Linked DNA regions of Homo sapiens. The protein of the gene in region 4 purifies or fractionates together with the protein of the main gene of each other region. This does not show direct contact. Each region holds a gene or a part of one and is shown on either strand. Other genes may lie near its edges. The genes, in order: THADA, CCKBR, RIC3, XPO4, ZHX1 and ATL3.

Region 1 (2,844 bases), on a different chromosome or scaffold from region 4:
TTGAATAATTAGGATGGAATGTGTAGGTCACTGCAGGACTTAACACATGCAGACAATAAAAATAAATTATTTGTGCAAAGTTGATCCTGAATTCTCCCAGGATCCAACATTTGGAACATATTTCTGCTTTGCTAAAATGGAACAAAATTCACAAATCTGACCAAATGGGCTGTTTGCCAACTAATCCAGCCCCTACATAAAGCCAGAAAAGGGGAGAGGGGAGGGATCATGTGTATGTGCTAAAATCCAACTCTCTGTAGTCATTTCACAGAGAATGCAGGGCGGCTATGGCAGGGCATTAGAGGCCCTGGGGGATGAAAAAGGCTCATTCAGGCCTGCAGGTGGCCTGCACCTGGGGACAGAGTAAATCTGCAACGGAGTCGCCTCACTTCCTACAGTAGCAGCAATAAAATAGGCTGCCCTGAATGAGTGAACTGAAGAAAAGTTTCTCTGTAAGGAGTGACAGACGACTGGACTCACAGAAGTAGGGGAGGCATGAATGGGATAAAATTTTTGAATTTATGTTCAACATGTTTCCTGCAGATTTAGTGGAGGAAAAATCCACACATACCCCCATCCCAATCCCCCAGATTTTCTTCAACATGCCGCTTCTGTTCTTGGAAGAGTTAACTGCCTCGATTCTGCATAAGAGTCCCAAACACTGAGAACTAGGGTGTCTTCCCCTTCCTTTCCTTCCAAAAAGGCCAGCAGCCTCAAGCAAGCCAAAGTCCTTTCCTCTTGAATGCGTAGTCTTGTGAACTCCACTGTCTTCACAAACTCAGCAGCTGGTGGAAGCTCTCTGAAGAACTGAGACAGGAGGTGGCACTGCTCTGACACCATCCTTTGAAGGTGACAGAGCATCTCAGGGCTTGGGGGACGCCAGCCGGACTTTGAGAGGAGACAGAAGAGGTGCTTGCAGAGGTATTTCACAAAGATCAGGGTCTCGGCCCAAAAGTTGACTTCTGCTTTTTCAAACAGGTAGTCTTCTTCCACCTAAATCAGATGAAAAAGCCGAAAGTCAGTCTTACAGGGAATGGTGACAAGCCCCAGTCCAGACCAAGCAGTACCCTGCCAGATGCAAGAGGGGTTTCCCTTCCCCCACCTGACAGAGGGTGCACTCTTGCCTGTCAACATCCATGTACACACACCACTTGCAGCCTTGAAGGTCACCTTCTATTTTCACTCACTGTATTTCTCCACCAGAGAGGAATTTTTTCCCCAGACTTAACATGACCTTGGATAAAGATGTGTTTGTGGTTCAAAGTCAAGATACTTTGGGGGATGGATGCTGAAAAGGGGACTTCAACAAGGGAGTGGGCTCTAGAGTTTAAGGTGCAGCTGGAAATTGGAGAGGAGGGAGGAAAGGTCATCTCTGCAGCAGGCCAGAGAGGAAGGAATCTCCAAACACAGGACACTAGGCTGTGTCCTGTTTCTATAACACTGTGATTCTCAAGGTCCTTTTGTCAGACACTTACCATGTCTCCAAATTTCTCATAAAGAGGGACAATGCGTTTTGAACCCTTGGCCTGCTGGGGATGCCAAGAAGGCCAGCTGAGTCAGATGCTGGTGGCGATCAATTTCAGTTCTCAGGATGCTTTTGCTGCTTGTCTTTGTCCTCAGTTTCCCTATCTGTGACTGCACCCACCCTGGAGGGGGCTAATAATAGTTTTCTTCAAGCAGGAAGTTCCCAGCAAAGATCCTAATTCTCTGAAAATGCTTCACCCTCAGACCTAACTTTGGGAAGCCCCAGGCTAACTCCAATACTGACTAACAAGCAGTCTCCATAATAAAACTCTCCGCATCCAGGGGCTTCTTTTTTTCTTTTCTTTTCTTTTCTTTTTTTTTTGAGATGGAGTCTTGCTCTGTTGCCCAGGCTGGAGTGCAGTGGTGCAATCTCGGCTCACTGCAACCTCCGCCTCCCAGGTTCACGCCATTCTCCTGCCTCAGCCTCCCGAGTAGCTGGGACTACAGGCACCCACCACCATGCCCGGCTAATTTTTTGTATTTTTAGTAGAGACGGGGTTTCACCGTGTTAGCCAGGATGGTCTCGATCTCCTGACCTCATGATCCGCCTGCCTTGGCCTCCCAAAGTGCTGGGATTACAAGCATGAGCCGCTGTGCCCGGCCAGGGGCTTCTTTCCGAGTTCTCTCCCCTGGCTAAGCTGGAGGCTGACCATCAGCACCCCAGAAGTCAGCCTAAGAGTGTCCCCGTGTCCTCGGCAGCACCCAGTGGGTGACTTTCCTAGTGGTTCCTGCTCTGTGTCTAAGCATGCAAAAGCCCAGCTGAGGCTGTAGGTGCTGCATCTAGCGGGTTTAGGACACTCCAACCCTGCCTCCTACTCCCCTGACACCCCGGGATCACCTGATGCATGCTCTCCACACAGGCCACGAGGTCATCACTCTCTCCCAACAGCCATCCCAGCAGGATGGGCAGTCCAGGGGCCAACTGGTCCCACTGCTGGAGCAGATCACACAGGACGGCCAGGGCCAGGGCCAGAGCGATGGAGGCATCCACCTGGCAGAAGGCAAACTCTGCAAAGACAGGAGAAAGGTGAGCAATGAATATACTGCTCAGGGCCGACCCCAGGGCAGCCTGCAGGACCCTGGGAACAATAAAGGCCTCAGGTAAAATCGCTGCCACCAGCCTGGCAGGGAAGCTGGTAGGGTGGGCTCACTGGAGACGATTAATCACCTTCTGAATCCTGCTATTTATACTGTTAGAATGAGTCATAGGCCTGAACCCACTGTTTCCATGCCCCCTAACTCAGTGTGGACAGAAGCAGTTCCATCTGCAGGATTAGAGAGTTATCTCCCCTCTGCTCCTCCAGTGTCACCAGAAGGATC
Region 2 (3,500 bases), on a different chromosome or scaffold from region 4:
TTGTATTTTTAGTAGAGATGGGTTTCTCCATATTGGTAAGGCTGGTCTCGAACTCCCGACCTCAGGTGATCACCTGCTTTGGCCTCCCAAAGTGCTGGGATTACAGGTTTGAGCCACTACGCCTGGCCCATACTGCCTCCTTCTTAATCAAATCTCAATCTAAATGCCTCTTTCTCCCTCTCTCTATACTCAACCATGGCATTTTTCACTGTATTAGTATGTATGTAATTCTCTGTCTTCCCCACTAGACTAGGAGCTTCTTGAGGACAGTGGCAAGGTCCATCTCGCTCTCCAGTATATCCCTAGCACTCATCATCCCTAGCACAGGGGAGGCAGTCAACACATGCTTGTTAATGAATCTTGGATGATTCTGTCTTTCAAGACAGAAGTGCACCTGCTTTCCCCCTCCTCATCCATCCGTCATCTCTGCAGAGGTGCTCCAGCATGCCCTTTCTTCTTCTTCTTTGCCTCTGTCTTTTTGGAGACACATGTTGGAAGGTCCTTGTGGGGGTCAGTGAGAGGTTATGATTTCAGATGCATAACTTTTGTTTTTTATATGCAAACCATCTATATTTCCTTTAGAAGCTGGGCCTCTCTCTGTAAGGAAGGATTACAGAAGGCTTATAGGTGACAAAATTTGAGGGGAGTAAGTGTGTATGGTGGAGAATAAAGGACTTTTAGGAGGGAGACCTCTGTCAGAGAGGTCCTTGGACTCAGAAAAGAGCTGGTGGTTTATCTTGGACTCACTGTTTCTTCTCCAAATCCATTGTCCTCCCACCCCCAGCCTCCACCTCTTTAATCTTTCTAGTTCCATTATCTTGCTTACATCTGCCCTGGATGTCTTTCTTCAACTAATTATTGATGCAATTCGCCACACCTCAAATTGGTACAGTACTGTGAAGCATGAAAAGCAATTTCTCATTCATTCATCCAGCTGATGTCCCATGTGTGTGCCCTTGAACTTGGCTAATTGTGATAGACCATAAAGATGGAGCTAAATATTACCCTTATAAAGTTTGCAATATGCTTGGGGACTCCTGAAATTTATAAGACAAAGTCCCAGTAAAAATGACCAGCAACTGTGCAGTGTTCTGCTGTTTTACTGGACATTCCTAGCTATTATCTTATTTCCAGCCACCACTGTCTCCACACGTCTTTGCTGTTGAACAGTTCAGAAATGTGAAAAATTCTAATTAAAAGCAATTTTAGAGCCAGGAGTTTGGAGAGGCAGAGCGAGGGATAAATAGATGAAGTACAGGGGATTTTTAGGGCAGTGAAACTATTCTGTGTGATACTGTAATGATGGATACATGCCATTATACATTTGTCAAAACCTATAGAACCATACAACACAAAAAGTGAACCCTAATGTAAACTCTAGAATTTAGAGAATAATGTATTGATATTGGCTCATAAATTGTGACACATGTACCACACTAATGTAAGCTGTTAATAATAGGGTAAATTCTGTGTATATGTGTGGTTGTGTGTGTATGGGCACTCTGTAATTTTTGTAAACTTAAAACTGCTCTAAAAATAATCCATTAGTTTAAAAAGTCATGCACAAAATAAATCAGACTTAGACTTGTATGCGTGTGTGTGTGTGTGTGTGTATTGATGTGTGTTTGCATGGTGGAATATGAGTGATGACAGTGGCTTCAGTGACTAGGAAACAGGCATGGGTAGAAGGATGGGAGATAGCACCTGCTGGGGTACATCCACAAGTGCCTTGATAAGTCTACCCGTGAGCATCATCTCATCATCTTCCTGGGGATGAGGAAAACTGGCATCAGACCAGGCGACTCAGAAGATTGGGACAGTTCAGTTCTTCTCCTGGTGTTTAGAAGATCTGTATTTGTTCTGTCTAGATAATGGCAGAGAAGTATGAGTGCAAAAATCCAGACAACGTGACATAAAATGAAAACCAAGACTTTCTAAGGAAAAACTCCACAGAACACTGAAGCTGCTGATGCCTTAAATTCTGCATTCTACTGGCAGGTTTGATCTGTTCACCCATGCACACAGACATCAAAGTAATACCCTTGTCTCTATGATAAGCAGGGATCACATCCAACTGACTGTGGGTAGTGGCTGGGTGAATGGGGGAATCCACATAGTGGGTACTGAGGGAGCAGAAGTAATATGCAAGGGTGTGTAGGTAATATCAGAGTGAGTGTTGGGCATACTTTAATCTTTGAAATAGTATATGGGTAGGTGAAAGTCACGCTTATTTCTGTGGGACATATCTGGAGAATGGTAACATCTACATGCTTATAGGTAATATCCGATTGAATATGGCTTACATTTAAGTTTAGATAATATCTGAGTCACTGTAGTAACATTTGAAAGAGCAAGGGTTAATATCCAACTCTCTGTAGATAACATTTTGTAGGTAACATCTTCAGGAAGCATAGATTACATTCAGAGGTCTACTTGTGAGTAGTGGAATATCCAAATAATGATAGAAATTGCTGACTGAGCAGAAGTAATATCCAAGTATGTATGGGTAGTATTTGAGTACAGATGTTAGATGTTAACATGTTAACTAAATTAAGATGTTAATCTGGGCCAGACATGGTGGCTTATATCTGTAATCCCAGCACTTTGGAAGGCTGAGGTGGGCAGATCTCTTAAGCCAAGGATTTAGAGACCAGCCTGGGCAACATGGAAAAACCCTATCTCTACAAAAAATACAAAAAATTAGCCACTTGTGGTGGCACATGCCTGTAGTCCCAGCTATTTAGGGGGTTGAGGTGGGAGGATCACTTGAGCCTGCGGAGGTCAAGACTGCAATGAGCCATGATCATGCTACTGCACCCCAGCCTGGGCAACAGAGGGAGACTGCCTCAAAAAAAAAAAAAAAAAAAAGATGTTAATCTGAGTAAATGAAATAACTGAGCACCTGAGTGAATGTAAGTAATATTTAAGCTTTTGTGGGTATTATCTGAGTATGTGAGAGTAATATTTGTAATTTTATGGGTAGTATCTGGGAAAAGCTTACTTAAGTGAGCATAGGTAATATCTGGTTGTGTGTGGATAATAATAAAATGAAAGTGAGTAGTGTTTGATGGATGGGTAACACCAAAATGACTTCGGACAATATTAAAGTGAGTGTGGTAACATTTGTCTTTCTGTGGGTACTATCTGAGTGAACATGGGTAATACTCAAGTCTGCATGGATTATATAAGGAGAATAAAGTGGTAACATCCAAATTCCTATTGGTAACATTGGAGTGAACCTGGGTAACCTATGCATCTGCAGGGATAATATCTGAATGAGTGTGGCTGACAGGGTCTCTGTGTGTAACATCTGACTGGCTGGGTAACATCCAAATGTGTGAGGAGCATTTAGATAAGTGAGGCAAATTTTTGCACCTGTGCTCTGAATTGCGTCACATCCCGCTTTCACAGGGAATCTTCTCTATTGACTATCCCCTTTCTTATCTGCACCTTCAATCTTCCTCTCTCGGCCCAATCACCAACAAACATTTTAAAAAGCT
Region 3 (3,500 bases), on a different chromosome or scaffold from region 4:
CGGCCACAGAGCCTCCTTTCTAAGTAGGAAAAGAGACAATAAACAAGATAATGATAAATACTAAGGAGAAAAAATAAGACAGGGAGAAGGGGTAGGACCGTGTTGGAAGTTAAGATTTTAGCTGGAATGGCCAGAGAAGGCATCAGGAAATGCAGTTTGAGAGAAAACATGAAGACGAAGGGAAAGGCACATGGATATCCAAAAGAAGAGCATTTCAAACAAGGGAAACAGCAAATGCAAAGGCACTGAAGTGGGAACATGCTTGGCATATTCAAGGAACAGTGAGGAGGAAGCCAGTGTGGCCACAACAAAGTGAGACAGATAGAAAAGTAGAAGCAAATGGGGAAGAGAATTACATAGGGCCTTTTGGGTCATGTATAGACTATCTTTTCATCTAAGCCAGGAAGCCACTGTAGAGTTTTGAGGAGGGGAGAGATGTGAGTTGACTTAAGCTTCAACATAATACTATCTGGCAGCTATATTGAGAATAGACTGAAGTGGGGAAGGAGGAAGGAGGCAAACCAGGGTGACAGAGTAAGATGGAATAGAGCAACCAAATAACCAACTGGTTGAATGACCCTAAACAAAACGTTTCCATGAATACAGTGGTGGGACTCTAAAAGCAGTTTTAAATGACTAAGACATTTAAAAAAATAATTTGACCTATCAAGAAAACATGCTGAGGCTGGGCATGGTGGCTCATGTCTGTAACTCCAGCACTCTGGGAGGCCAAGGCAGGCAGATCATCTGAGGTCAAGGGTTCGATACCAGCCTGGCCAACATGGTGAAACTCCGTCTCTACTAAAAATACAAAAAAAATTAGCCAGGCGTGGTGGTGGATGCCTGTAATCCCAGCTTCTCAGGAGGATGAGGCAGGACAATTGCTTGAACTTGGGAGGCAGAGGTTGCAGTGAACTCAGATCCTGCCACTACACTCCAGCCTGAGAAAAAACAAACAAAAAGAGAAAACATGCTGATCATAATCAAAGGTAAAATTGTAAAAAAAGAAAGAAAAAAAGAAAAATTATAACATGGTGGGAAAAATTTGAACACCAACTAGATATTTAATGACATCAAGGAAGTATTGACTTTTTAGGTGTGACAATGGTATTGTGGCTACATTTTAATAAGAATCTGTTTTTAGAGATGCATACTGAAGCATTTAAGGATGAAAAATGATCCAATGTCTAGGATTTGCTTCAAAATAATCCAGTGAATGGGGGGAAAAGTGGGTGGGGATACCCATGACACAAGACTGACCATGTATTGATGGCTGCTGAAGCAGGATGATATGGATTCATTTTACTACTCTCTCAACTTTTGCTTATGTTTGAAAATGTCTTTAACAAAAAGTTTTTTAAAAATCAAGAATGGCACACAGCTAAGAAATGGTAAGCAGATACATTGAATGAAACATTGAATGCTCTGAAAAAATTTCAAGAGCTAGAATTCTTGGCCAAATTTAAACAAATAAAATGCAACAAGGAAAACTACAAATTCCTACATTTCATTCCGAAACATCAAGTGAACAGTAGAAAATGAACAAAACCTAGATGAGCAGCTCCTATTAAAAAGAAGAAAAAAAGGCTCAGAATTCTAATATACAGCAAAGTCAGCAAGGAAAATGCTAAAAACTAGAGCAATCCCCAGAAAGCATTAAGTATAGAAGAAGAAGAGTGCAGGGAAACAACAGATTGCTCTTTCATGAACTGTCTTAGATATGCTGTTATTTGCAGTTCTAAGAGCCTCTTCTGAGAGGGCTGTGTTCAAACACTTGCACCTAGGTCATACCAGGAACGGATGAGGGAGCTAGGGATGTTAACACAGGAAAGAAGACTGAAGAAAGGGACATAATACTACTTTTCCAATTCCTGGATTAATCATCTTACACCTGTAAACCAAAAAGTATCTGGGACAGGCCTCAATCAATTTAGAAGTTTATTTTGCCAACGTTAAGGACACGCCCAGGAGAGAGGTCTGTGCCTTTCTCCAAAGATGATTTTGAGGGCTTCAATATTTCAAGGGGAAAAGTGAGCTGGAGGGGAAAGAAGGGTATGGTAATCTATATGTTGCAAGAGAAAAGGAGCAGGTAGAGGAATAGTCAATTATGTATTCATCTGGTGCTCAGTAAATCGGCACTTCACGTAAGATACGGTGAACATAGAGTAGCTACCTGTAGAGATATTTAATTTTTTATCTGTAGCTACCTGCTTAGGAACAAAAGGAAAGGCAGTTTCTTGCACGACTCAGCTTTCAGCTTAATTTTTTCCTTTTGGCATAGTGAACTGGGGTCCCAAGTTTTTATTTTCTTTTCACACACCTTTAATCTACTTTTCCTCCATTCCTATTTTGGCAAAGGAAATCAACATCTATCCCTTCACCTAAACCTGAGAATAATCCAGATGTCTCCCTCTCCCTCACTTTCCCATTCTATTTTAAAATGTCTCTTAAAATTATTCTCTTCCCTCCAATCTATCCATTGATAACCTCTCTTGCTCTAATATCCATATTTTCCTTTGGGAACTCCTCTCAACTCCAGAGTGGATTCATCAGTATATTCTTTCTACCCACAGCACCACAAGTTAACTTAATTCAAGCCATTAACGTGAACGGATATGTTTGCTGGAACTTCTGGGAAAGAATCTTGGGAGTGAGGCTGGAAGGTGAGAGTGATGGAGGACTTAAAAGAAAAGAGGCCTGGAGCTGTGCCCAGCAAAGTGCTGTAATCCCAGCACGTTAGGAGGCTGAGGTGGGACAATGACTTGAGGCCAGGAGTTCCAGGCCAGCTCTACACACACACGTATATAAATGAGACACTCCCACTTTCTCCGGGCAATGGAATGTGAGGAGGTAATGTCCGAAACTGTTGCTATAAATGAGACACTCACTTTCTCCGGGCAATGGAATGTGAGGAGGTAATGTCCGAAACTGTTGCTATAAATGAGACACTCACTTTCTCCGGGCAATGGAATGTGAGGAGGTAATGTCCGAAACTGTTGCTATAAATGAGACACTCACTTTCTCCGGGCAATGGAATGTGAGGAGGTAATGTCCGAAACTGTTGCAACCATTGCTACCACCCTGAGAGGGCAGCCAGAGCACAGAACCAACTTGAGAACGAACCCAGAGTGAAAAGGACACAGAAAATAAGAGCTAGAGCCCCAGTGTGACAACTGTGAGTCTCTGGTTCAAACCATACTGCAAGACATTTCTAACACAGGGTCTTTTCATTTACACAAGTCAATAAATTCCCTGTCTTAGTCAAGCTGACTTTTCTGTCACTTGTCACAAGCACCCTAACTGGTGAACCCAATGACAATGACTTGGTGATGCTCATGATGTCTCAACTGGATGACTACAACAATCTTCTCCCTGAAGAAATCCTCACAACGCAGTGTCTACACTGCTGCCAGGGTGTCCTTTCTAAAACCAGGTTAAATGTTTCTCTTCTCCTTACACACTCAATGATGCCTCATCTGCCTTTAGAATAAAACCCAATC
Region 4 (3,500 bases):
TCTAACAGAGATGGCCACCCTGAAAGACCCAAATAATGGTGCTGGAAAGGACACTGTCAAATACTGTCAGGTAGTTTTGCTACTGAGGCAGCCACTCATCCAGCACAAGGACTATAAAAGCAAATCAATCCTTTTAACAGAACAAGAACACAGTTACAGGTGCTACCACATTAACAGACTGTGAAAGTACAAAGTCTTTAGTGATTGTGCCTTGGGAAATAAATGGGTCAAGGAAAATAAAATGAGAAACAAACAAAGGATGTATGGAAAACTAGAGGTTAAAGGATACTATATGAACAACAGAAATTTTATAAAACAAAAATCTAAAAATGAAATACTTGACAGTGTCCCTTTGACATATATAAAAGAGGGCACAAATAATGTTTTTGTTTTAAAAAATATTTTAACAACAGTTTTAATAGAAAAAAAATCAACTGACTTGAATTAAGCCAGTGTTCTTGACACCCACTGGGCCAAGAGCATTAAAACAAAACAAGACCGGAGAAGTTAATAAACACAGCTAAAGACAAAATTGGACAAAATAAAACAAAAGAAAACACAAAGTGAATAAGCATCCAATCAGGCAAACATGGACACAACCACCCTGAAAAGGTCTAGCCGTTGCAACTCAGTGGCATCCCCATCACCTAAAAAATGGTAGTGGCTTCTCCCCACCCCAGTGAGCTAATATTCAACATTCTGCTGATCTTATAAGTATTATTTGGTCCAATCTGAAGAAGGTCTTTTTAAACTAAAACTAGTCTAATGAAATTACACCTCAGGAATATGGAGGTGAAATTTTCTATTTTTAGTATTGTAATAGGATCTGGGCAAATTTTGCAAATATGTTGCCATCTGGATAAAAGTTATTAAATATAGATGCCTTTTTACTTACCAAGGCATTCCTTTCCCACTCCTCTTTAGTTTTAATAACTTGATTATAGTTTTGTCATGGCGCGTGGACCTGTCCAGTCAATTGTGTGTTTCAGTGCCCTTTGGTAAAGAGACTGTACTTAGCACACACACAGATACACATAATTCACAACAGCTGAGAAAGCTTGAGGGATCTGGGAAACACAAAACACCAAGAACAATGCAAAACAAATAGATTACTGCTGCATATCACTTCAAGTTTTTTAAGGGGAAAAAAAAAACACCTAAAAATAAATGCATCAAAGTATTTTTTAAAATACAGAAACGTGTACTTCTGGATGACTGATATTAATTTCCTTCCTAGCAGTCTTTTCAAGATGTTTTTGCTTCCCCTTAATTGTGACTCAAAGCTAATCAAATTGAGAGAAATGTAAGTTATGGCCCAAGGCCCTGCATTCACATCTACCTAACATCACATGCACAGGTTGGATGTAATTCAGATGCTCCAGTTTTGTTAACTGTTAATAACACAGAATTATACAAAGTTTTGCACAGCATCACATGTAATGACACATATGCTATATGCAATCAGGTAGAAAAACCGTATTTGCAGAATGGTTTAATAGATAGGTGTCAGGAACATGGTGGAAGCAGAGTTTCATGAGTGCACCTGTGCCAGAGTCCTCTACCTGTCACTGTGCTGTGAAAGTACTGCAATGAGTGGAGTTTCATATGCCTGCTGTGTATAAATTAGCTTTCATTTCCACATTGTAAGCTGGCACACTGAATTAGGGGAGCCTGGCAGCTGTATAAAAATCCTGATTAAGAGATCAAACTAGAGGATCTAAAGTGAATTTTTAATCTCTGAAATTAAATTCACTGGCTCCCATGTCTGGATAAGAATTATTGCCCCTAATGCCCCAACGTGCAATAGTCTGTGTGAATCAGTGATTCACATCCTTTAAAATAATTATTGCTTAAGCAAGCCATTTAGAGTAGATATGGGCTATGTGGCTGGATAGAAACACACTCAAAAAGTTAGACTAGACGGAAACAAGCCTTTCATTTCACTGATAAACCTACATAAATACACGATCGAAAGGGGCAACAGGTTCATAGCAGCTAACACCCTAAACCAACTCTGAAGCATCAAGACGTGGTTTCTTACTAAAACAAATCAGCTGTTTTTGTATTTTCCTCTTAAAATTAAGGCAATGAAATGGCTACAGTTCCTAAGGTTATTTTTACGGAACAAAAATATACATGTATTTTCCTCCTCAAGTTCAGGCATCAGAGTATGATTAGTGACTTGTATTACACAAAACCTGCAGCACTGGGTTGATGTGAGAGAGAGAGAGAAAAGAAAGAGAGAGACAGAAAGCAAGAAAAGCAAGAAAGCAAGCAAGCAAGAAAGCAAGCTAAGAAAAAGCCAACAAACCCCTGGTGATGTTTCCCCTTCCTGCTGAATTATAAAACCCAATCATCAAAGGGAGGAAAAGCTAGAAAGCACAAAACCTCTTAAGAGTTTTCAATGTCTCTTTCATTGATTCAAAACTTTTGGGGTGACGAAAGGGAGAAGCTTATTAACATGAAGACTCCTGGGCCCAACAACCAGACATTCTGACTCTGAAGGTCTACAGTTGGGCCTAAGAATCTGCCTTTTCACCAGCTCCTCAAGTGATGCAGGCGATCTATGGAGATTTTGAGAAACACTGCCTAGCATATATCCATTTCATATTTAATGACAAAAATTCTAAACTTTGGCTAGCCACCTATGTTAAAAGGAAAAAAGGCACTGCATATGTATTTCGTGGTGCCCATATCTGTTTGCACATATATGGAATTTCATTTTGAAAATTTTAAATCACCATTCAGAATCTAAAAGACATATATATGACAGATTGTGGCTAACACTTAACAGCAGAAGCTGATGCCAAGTTGACCTCTCCTGTTTCACTGTATTACATACATATCAAAGTTTCAGGCTCTCCAAAATCCAAAATGGCCAAATGAACTGAGGAATAGGACAAGACTCAAGTCAACTTTCAGCAATTCAGTGCACTTTGCAGAAAGGATCTAAATTAAGCATAAAGTTCTGTTGTTTATTTTACACAAAGGAGACCACCAACATTTGCCATAAATTCTTCTAAACTCTTTAAGAAGGCCATCTTCTGCTTCCGATCCAGCGTAGGAGGAGTGCTGCTTGCAGTGAGCTTGTTGAAGGCATCTGCTAATCTCTGGTAAATAACTGGGTCTTGCTGACTTGATAGTAATGTTTCGACCAGTTCAGAATATTCAGCCTATTGAAGAGATAAAGTATACACAAGTATCCTCCTTAGAATATCATACAAGTAGATCTTATCAGTTACTGGACTGTGGGGTTCTAAAAGGCAGGGACACATTTTTAAGAGTTAACATTTAGAATAATTCAGCATTTAAGTACTACTGTTTGAAAACCTTTTACATGGATTAATTCATCTATCATTTACAACAATGCTTCGAGACAGGTACTGTTTCTATTCCCATTCCAGAGGTGAAGGTTTCGACACTCAGTGAGGTGAAGTGATATGGCCCAGATCAAGCAAGAGTCCACCAATCTAGCCCCAAGACCCATGTGATAATCAACT
Region 5 (3,500 bases), on a different chromosome or scaffold from region 4:
GTGTTCTACTACATTTTAAAAAAGATTAAAAATAAGTCCTCAATGTAATACACTATAAGAAGTTAGTGGATTGTTTCAAATTCTATGCTTACCCACTACTAAAAAAAAGTCTAAAATATTTTATAATTAAACAGAGCCACAACTGCACTGAATTTGCAAGCTTCTGGTTTTTCTGGCTGTTTGGACTTCAAATTAAATGATTAACAGATAACAATATGTTGGCCTGGTTAGCCACAAAAGCATGCTATTTGGTAAGATTTTACATGAATAAAAACAAACTTTTTTTTCTTGAGACGGAGTCCCACTCTGTTGCCCAGGCTGGAGTGCACTGGGGCAATCTCGGCTCACTGCAACCGCCGCCTCCCAGGTTCAAGCAATTCTCTGCCTCAGCCTCCCAAGTAGTTGGGATTACAGGCGCCCGCCACCACGCCTGGCTAATTTTTGTATTTTTTTTAGTAGAGACGGGGTTTCACCATCTTGTCCAGGCTGGTCTTGAACTCCTGACATCATAATCCACCCGCCTCGGCCTCCCAAAGTGCTGGGATTACAGGCATGACCCACTGTGCCTGGCCACAAACTTTGTTTTTTACAACAATTCTGGGTCAAATAAGAGCATTTAGGGCTGAGTGAGGTGGCTCACGCATGTAATCCCAGCACTTTGGGAGGCCGAGGCGGGTGGATCACCTGAGGTCAGGAGTTTGAGACCAGCCTGGCCAACATGGTGAAACCCTGTCTCTACTAAAAATACAAAAATTAGCCCGGCGTCGTGGCGTGCACTTATAATTCCAGCTACTCGGGAGGTTGAGGCAGGAGAATCGCTTGAACCTGGGAGAAGAAGGTTGCAGTAAGCCGAGATTGCGCCATTGCACTCCAGCCTGGATGATAAGAGCACAACTCTGTCTCAAAAAAAAAAAAAAAAGAGCATTTAGAAGATACTATAGTTTTTAGGGATCATGTTAATTTTGATGTAGCATCAAAAATAAAACTGTTCTTAGGTAGCAAAAATATACACACTGAGAATCCCTTGGAATCTGCATTTGTATATATACCGAGAATGTTTGGGACTCTGTATTCTATTTAGTTTCACTTCTCTCTGAGTCAAGAGTTCTGTTTAGCCAGCTGAAAATACTTTAACACGTTTGTATTCAACTAGAAGTTACAAATCCACAAAAATCACGGAATGCCTAAACAGTACAAACAAAGAATTAGGTCATATTAAAACAAAAGGTATCCACCGTGTTAAAAAAAATAAAGGTGATTTTATACAATTAAGGTATTTTCAAAGTTAAAATGTAAAAATAAAAATAAAATGTTAAAACATTTAGAAACATCAAGTTCTTAAAAAATTAAATTAGGAATTTGACAACACAAATTTACATCCACAGCAAATGTTTTTAAAGATTGCTGGTAACCTACAATCATGACCTGAGAGATAAGTCTCAAGAAAACTGTAAAAAATAGTCTCAAGACAATAGAAAATCAAGTATTAAAGTGAATATACAAACAGGAATAAAAATAATAAAAGTGAAAGCATCTAAGAAATTGTGGTCAAAGATAATCAAATGTCAGAGGATACCTTTGCTAATGCTAATTAAGGCTGAAAGGTAAGAAACCCTATCCTCTCTATCTGTTTTTTTCCATCTGAGAAAGCAGACCTTAATGACACTAAAGATTAAAAGAAGAATCCAAATCGGACAGATTTTTTTCTGGCAAGCTCTGACCACAGATTTGCGGGAGTGAAATGTCTTTTTGAAAGGTCTCTCCCTAGGACACTAACATCCTAGTTTTCTCCCCACAGCTGGCAGGTAGGTAGGTAAGTACGTAATACATTGAAAGTGATATATAAACTAGCAGTATCATGAAATCTCTTATCTTGTGAAGAGTTTGTGAATGTGATCGAAAAGTCATTTTCTACTGAAAACAATTTTTCCCTACTTTTCTCAAGAAGGTGTGTTAAGTCTTTTACAGCCAGTCTAACACAAGAATGCTATTCTCAGTTCCAAGTGAGATTACCTTTGAAGACTGAAAAACCATTCATCTGGTCATTATCTTCCCTATTTATAATGGTAAGGTAACTGTTACCCACTTCACTGAGGATATAATGATTTGATTTTTCAAAATACTTTGAAAGATAATAGTAATCAGTATTGGTAATATCAACTTATAAGAACTCTGTTATCCATTTTTTAAAAATGAAAACTGCCACATTAATGTTTATCAAATCTTTCCTAGTATTTTCTGGAATCATCTAAAATAACAATAGGACAAATGCTTCTTATAAAAGCCAATTAATTAATCAGATAAAATATAAAAACAATTATGTACAAATACATTCAAATATATATATATTTTTTACGTCACACAGGTAATGTGCCAGTGTCATAACAAGGTTTGAGAAAGGCACATTTCACACATAAGCATGAAAACCCAATCATCACACTTAAGAACTACAAAAGGATCAATATTCAAATATTTAAGTTTTGGTATGGTTAATATAAGTAAGAGTATTTAATTAATATCCTGACTCTTATAATTAACTATTATTAGTAGCCTACGTTTTGAAAATACAGTTTCAGAATTTGTTCTTGTACATCCTGAAGCATTTTTCTGGATATAGGCAAAAGCATAGCAAAATTTCTAGATCAATTTCCCCATACCAAAGGTACATTTTGTCTTGTTTACCTCTGTTATCACAGCACTTGGTATAGTGCCTGACACAGCAGATTTTATCAAATACTAATTTTAAAATCAATTATAAATATACAAGATTTATTATGAAGTATGATGCCGTCTCCTTTTAAATTAAAGCAGTCCTATACTTATAGCTCTTAAAATTTGAAAGTATATTAAAAAAAAGTGTTAAGCATATGTCTGCTGCTTTTTAAGGAAAGCTTTTAAAAACTTTAGACAAATATAGTATCATGGGATCTAAAGTGAGTACATTCAGTATCTGAGTTTTACCATACCAAAACAATGAAACACATACTTGCCACAGCTTCCTTAGCATTCTGTTCTTTGAAATGGAAGGGTATCCCTTCTAGTTAGATGTTTAGCTCAGGCCATCATTACCAACAGGTCCAAAGCAGCAGTCTGTCTTCTCCTACAAAAAAGTCATATTTTATTATTCTAGATATAATTTAGCCTTAGTCAGGAAATTTTTACAATTTAATGCCTTAGCTTTTAATAAATAAATGTAATTTTGAAAAAAAAAGTTTATTCCCTCATCAAAACTTTAAAAGAACCATTTAAATACCAATCCTAATATTGGTAGTAAACACAAAAACTACACATTAAAAAAACTCTATTTATATCATATAGAACAACTAAATAACTATTAGACCATTTTGAATAAAATTTCAAAACGTGAATATATGCCGTCTCTAGTGTGAAAATTGAGATGCAGAAATTGGGAGTTCTTTAAAATGAGTATACCGGCCGGGCGCGGTGGCTCACACCTGTAATCCCAGCACTTCGGGAGGCCAAGGCCGGCGGATCACCTG
Region 6 (3,500 bases), on a different chromosome or scaffold from region 4:
CCTCATGATCCGCCCGCCTCAGCCTCCCACAGTGCTGGGATTACGGAGTTTCACTCTGTTGCCCAGGTTGGAGTACAATGGCACGATCTTGGCTCACTGCAACCTCCACCTCCCAGGTCCAAGCGATTCTCCTGCCTCAGCCTCCCGAGTAGCTGGGATTACAGGCATGAGCCACCATGCCCGGCTAATTTTTGTATTTTTAGTAGAGACAGGGTTTCACCACGTTGGTCAGACTCGTCTTGAACTCCTGACCTCAGATGATCCACCCACCTCGGCCTCCCAAAGTGCTGGGATTACAGGCCTAAGCCACCATGTCTGGCCTATTTTTTTTTTTTTTTTGAGACAGAGTTTTGCTCGTCACCCAGGCTGGAGTGCAATGGCGCAACCTCGGCTCACCACAACCTCCACCTCCCAGGTTCAAGCGATTCTCCTGCCTCAGCCTCCTGAGTAGCTGGGATTACAGGTGCACACCACCATACCCGGCTAATTTTTGTATTTTTAGTTGAGCAAGACTGTCTAAAAAAAAAAAAAAAAGTTGTTTTCTGTTAATTTTAATATCTGTGTTAGTTCTGAGACAGTTTTGATTGATTTTTCTCCTCATTTGGGTTATATTTTTCTGCTTCTTTTATGTCTGCAAATTTTTGATAGGATGTAGACTTGTGGATTTTCCCTTGTTGGGTGCTGGTTATTTTTGCATTCCTATAAAATATCTAGCTTTATTCTGAGATGTAGTTAAGTAATTTGGAAACTCTGGTTTTTTCTGTTCTTGCTGTTTAGATTTGTTAAATGGAACCAGAGTGTTGTTATTCCTCATTACTGAGGCAAGACTGAGTACTCTTCCTAATCCCACTGCAATCTCCGCCGCCCAGGTTCCAGCAATTCTCCTGCCTCTGCCTCCCAAGTAGCTGAGATTACAGGTGGGCGCCACCACGCCCAGCTAATGTTTGTATTTTTAGTAGCAACAGGGCATCACCATGTTGGCCAGGCTGGTCTCGAACTCCTGACCTCAGGTGATCCGCCCACCCCAGCCTCCCAAAGTGCTGGGAATACAGGCGTGAGCCACCGCATCTGGCCTTTTTTTTTTTTTTTAGATGGAGTTTAGCTCTTGTTGCCCAGGCGGAAGTGCAATGGTGCGATCTCGGCTCACTGCAACCTCCACCTCCCGGGTTCCAGCGATTCTCCCACCTCAGCCTCCCAAGTAGCTGGGATTACAGGCATGACCCATCACACCCAGCTAATTTTTTGTATTTAGTAGAGATGGGTTTTCACCATGTTGGTCAGGCTAGTCTCAAACTCCTGACTTCAGGTGATCCACCCACCTCGGCCTCCCAAAGTGTGAGATTACAGACGTGCGCCACCGCGCCGGCCAAAGAATTTTAAATGAACATCTTGTGGAACAACTTCAAGCAGCAAGAGGCACATGTAATAGGAGTCTCCAAAGGGAGTAACAGACCAAAAAAACTTGAAGAAATAATAACCTTAAAATGTCCAAATTTGATAAACATTATAAATCTGCAGATTCAAGAAGCTCAACAAAACCCACATACAAATAACATGAACTACATCAGCCTGGCGCAGTGGCTCACGCCTATAATCCCAGCACTTTGGGAGGCCAAGGCGGGCAGATCACGAGGTCAGGAGATCGAGACCATCCTGGCTAACACAGTGAAACCCCGTCTCTACTAAAAATACAAAAACTTAGCCGGGCGTGGTGGTAGGCGCCTGTAGTCCCAGCTCCTTGGGAGGCTGAGGCAGGAGAATGGCGTGAACCCGGGAGGCGGAGCTTGCAGTGAGCCGAGATCACGCCACTGCACTCCAGCCTGGGCGACACAGTGAGACTCCGTCTCAAAAAAAAAAAAAGAACTACATCAAAACACATAATAATTTGCTCAAAAACAGTGATAAAATCTTAAAAGCAACCAGACATACCCTATAAATATATATACCTATGTACCCACGAAAATAAAATTTTTTTTAATTTAAAGAAAAAAGCAACCAGACAAAAAAGACAGATTAGGTACAAAAGAACAAAAATAAGAATAACAGTGTATTTCTTGTCAGAAACAATGTCAGCAGACTGGGCACAGTGGCTCATGCTTGTAATCCCAGCACTTTGGGAAACAGAGGCAGGTGAATAACCTGAGGTCAGGAGTGCAAGACCAGCCTGACCAATATGGCGAAACCCCGTCTCTACTAAAAATACAAAAATTAGCCAGGCGTGGTGGTGCGCGCCTGTAGTCCCAGCTACTCAGAAGGCTGAGACAGGAGAATTGCTTGAACCCGGGAGGCAGAGGTTGAAGTGAGCCGAGATCGCACCACTGCACTCCAGCCTGAGCAACAGAGAGACTCCCTCTCAAAAAAAAAAAAAAGAAACAATGTCAGCAAAAAGGCAAAGGGGCAACACCTTTGAAGTACTGAGAAAAATACGTTGGCCTAGAACTCTACACTAAGAGTAAATATTTTCCAAAACAAAGGCAAAATAAAGATTTTTCAGATGTATGAAAGCTAAAAGAATTCAGTACCAACACTCCAGCACTTCAAAATATCAAAGGTGGCCAGGTGTGGTGGCTCACCCCTGTAATCCCAGCACTTTGGGAGGCTGAGACAGGCGGATCACGAGGTCAGGAGTTCCAGACCAGCCTGGCCAACATTGTGAAACCCTGTCTCTACTAAAAATACAAAAATTATCCAGGCATGGTGGTGTGCACCTGTACTCCCAGCTAATGAGGAGGCTGAGGCAGGAGAATTGCTTGAACCTGGGAGGCGGAGACTGTAGTGACCAAGATGGTGCCACTGCACTCCAGCCTGGGCAACAGAGTGAGACTACATCTCAAAAAAAAAAAAAAAAAAAGGACAAACAGGTGTGAAGGCATGCTTATAGGATTGGGCTAAAAACAGAAGTAATGGATGAAAGTCTGTATAAGAAACACATGACTTACCCCTCCCGATCCTTACAAAGAAATCTGTGGAGAGGCTCTATGCCCATAGCTTACAAGGCATAGATGAGACTGGGGCTAAGAAGCCCTACTGATAGCTAGGGGATAGTGAATGCCCACCTTCTGAACAGTGAGATCCCCAATGCCATTTCCCTGCTCAACTCCCAGAACAACAGCCAGGTCTGTGCCACCCATACAGGAGTAAGGAAGTAAAGAACAGAAGTGGTAACACATAAGAGCATCAGCCTCTGGGAAGTGAAAACTGGGTAGAGAGGAGAATAACACACATGACAGCTGCTTTCTGTTAGAAGCCTTACAGTAGTACCTGACCTTTTAAACTATATTCATGCATTTTATTTAAGAATCTTAAAAACAATCAATATGTATTAATTTTAAATCATTCACTTTGATAAAAAGTTGTTTTCACATCTTCCTTCCTTTTATTGAAAAAAAATTTCAGAAAATAACAGTTCATAAAAGACACAAACAAATCAACAGGTATATACCAGTGGAAAACACAATATGAAACTAAAAATGCCATTGGCTTTTTTTTTTTTTTTTTGA

The links.
Region 1: the proteins of XPO4 (region 4) and THADA purify together in Homo sapiens (affinity purification with mass spectrometry, with the first as the bait; one large-scale study listed by BioGRID). This does not show direct contact.
Region 2: the proteins of XPO4 (region 4) and CCKBR purify together in Homo sapiens (co-immunoprecipitation; one large-scale study listed by IntAct). This does not show direct contact.
Region 3: the proteins of XPO4 (region 4) and RIC3 purify together in Homo sapiens (co-immunoprecipitation; one large-scale study listed by IntAct). This does not show direct contact.
Region 5: the proteins of XPO4 (region 4) and ZHX1 fractionate together in Homo sapiens (co-fractionation; one large-scale study listed by BioGRID). This does not show direct contact.
Region 6: the proteins of XPO4 (region 4) and ATL3 purify together in Homo sapiens (pull-down; one large-scale study listed by IntAct). This does not show direct contact.

Annotation. Positions count from the first base shown.
Region 1 is NC_000002.12:43,230,351-43,233,194, forward strand, and holds the end of THADA (tRNA (32-2'-O)-methyltransferase regulator THADA), read right to left. Parts: intron 2,533-2,844; coding exon 2,363-2,532; intron 994-2,362; coding exon 598-993; 3' UTR 501-597; downstream 1-500. UniProt on the Homo sapiens protein: Together with methyltransferase FTSJ1, methylates the 2'-O-ribose of nucleotides at position 32 of the anticodon loop of substrate tRNAs.
Region 2 is NC_000011.10:6,262,838-6,266,337, reverse strand, and holds part of CCKBR (gastrin/cholecystokinin type B receptor), read right to left. Parts: intron 1-3,500. UniProt on the Homo sapiens protein: Receptor for gastrin and cholecystokinin. The CCK-B receptors occur throughout the central nervous system where they modulate anxiety, analgesia, arousal, and neuroleptic activity.
Region 3 is NC_000011.10:8,159,026-8,162,525, forward strand, and holds part of RIC3 (protein RIC-3 isoform a precursor), read right to left. Parts: intron 1-3,500. UniProt on the Homo sapiens protein: Molecular chaperone which facilitates proper subunit assembly and surface trafficking of alpha-7 (CHRNA7) and alpha-8 (CHRNA8) nicotinic acetylcholine receptors.
Region 4 is NC_000013.11:20,780,747-20,784,246, forward strand, and holds part of XPO4 (exportin-4), read right to left. Parts: intron 3,174-3,500; coding exon 2,976-3,173; 3' UTR 1-2,975. UniProt on the Homo sapiens protein: Mediates the nuclear export of proteins (cargos), such as EIF5A, SMAD3 and isoform M2 of PKM (PKM2). In the nucleus binds cooperatively to its cargo and to the GTPase Ran in its active GTP-bound form.
Region 5 is NC_000008.11:123,264,287-123,267,786, forward strand, and holds part of ZHX1 (zinc fingers and homeoboxes protein 1), read right to left. Parts: intron 3,101-3,500; 5' UTR 3,008-3,100; coding exon of another isoform or gene 2,987-3,007; intron 2,460-2,986; exon of another isoform or gene 2,356-2,459; intron 1-2,355. Other genes in the region: ZHX1-C8orf76 (zinc fingers and homeoboxes protein 1), read right to left, coding at 2,987-3,007. UniProt on the Homo sapiens protein: Acts as a transcriptional repressor. Increases DNMT3B-mediated repressive transcriptional activity when DNMT3B is tethered to DNA. May link molecule between DNMT3B and other co-repressor proteins.
Region 6 is NC_000011.10:63,654,377-63,657,876, forward strand, and holds part of ATL3 (atlastin-3), read right to left. Parts: intron 1-3,500. UniProt on the Homo sapiens protein: Atlastin-3 (ATL3) is a membrane-anchored GTPase that mediates the GTP-dependent fusion of endoplasmic reticulum (ER) membranes, maintaining the continuous ER network. It facilitates the formation of three-way junctions where ER tubules intersect.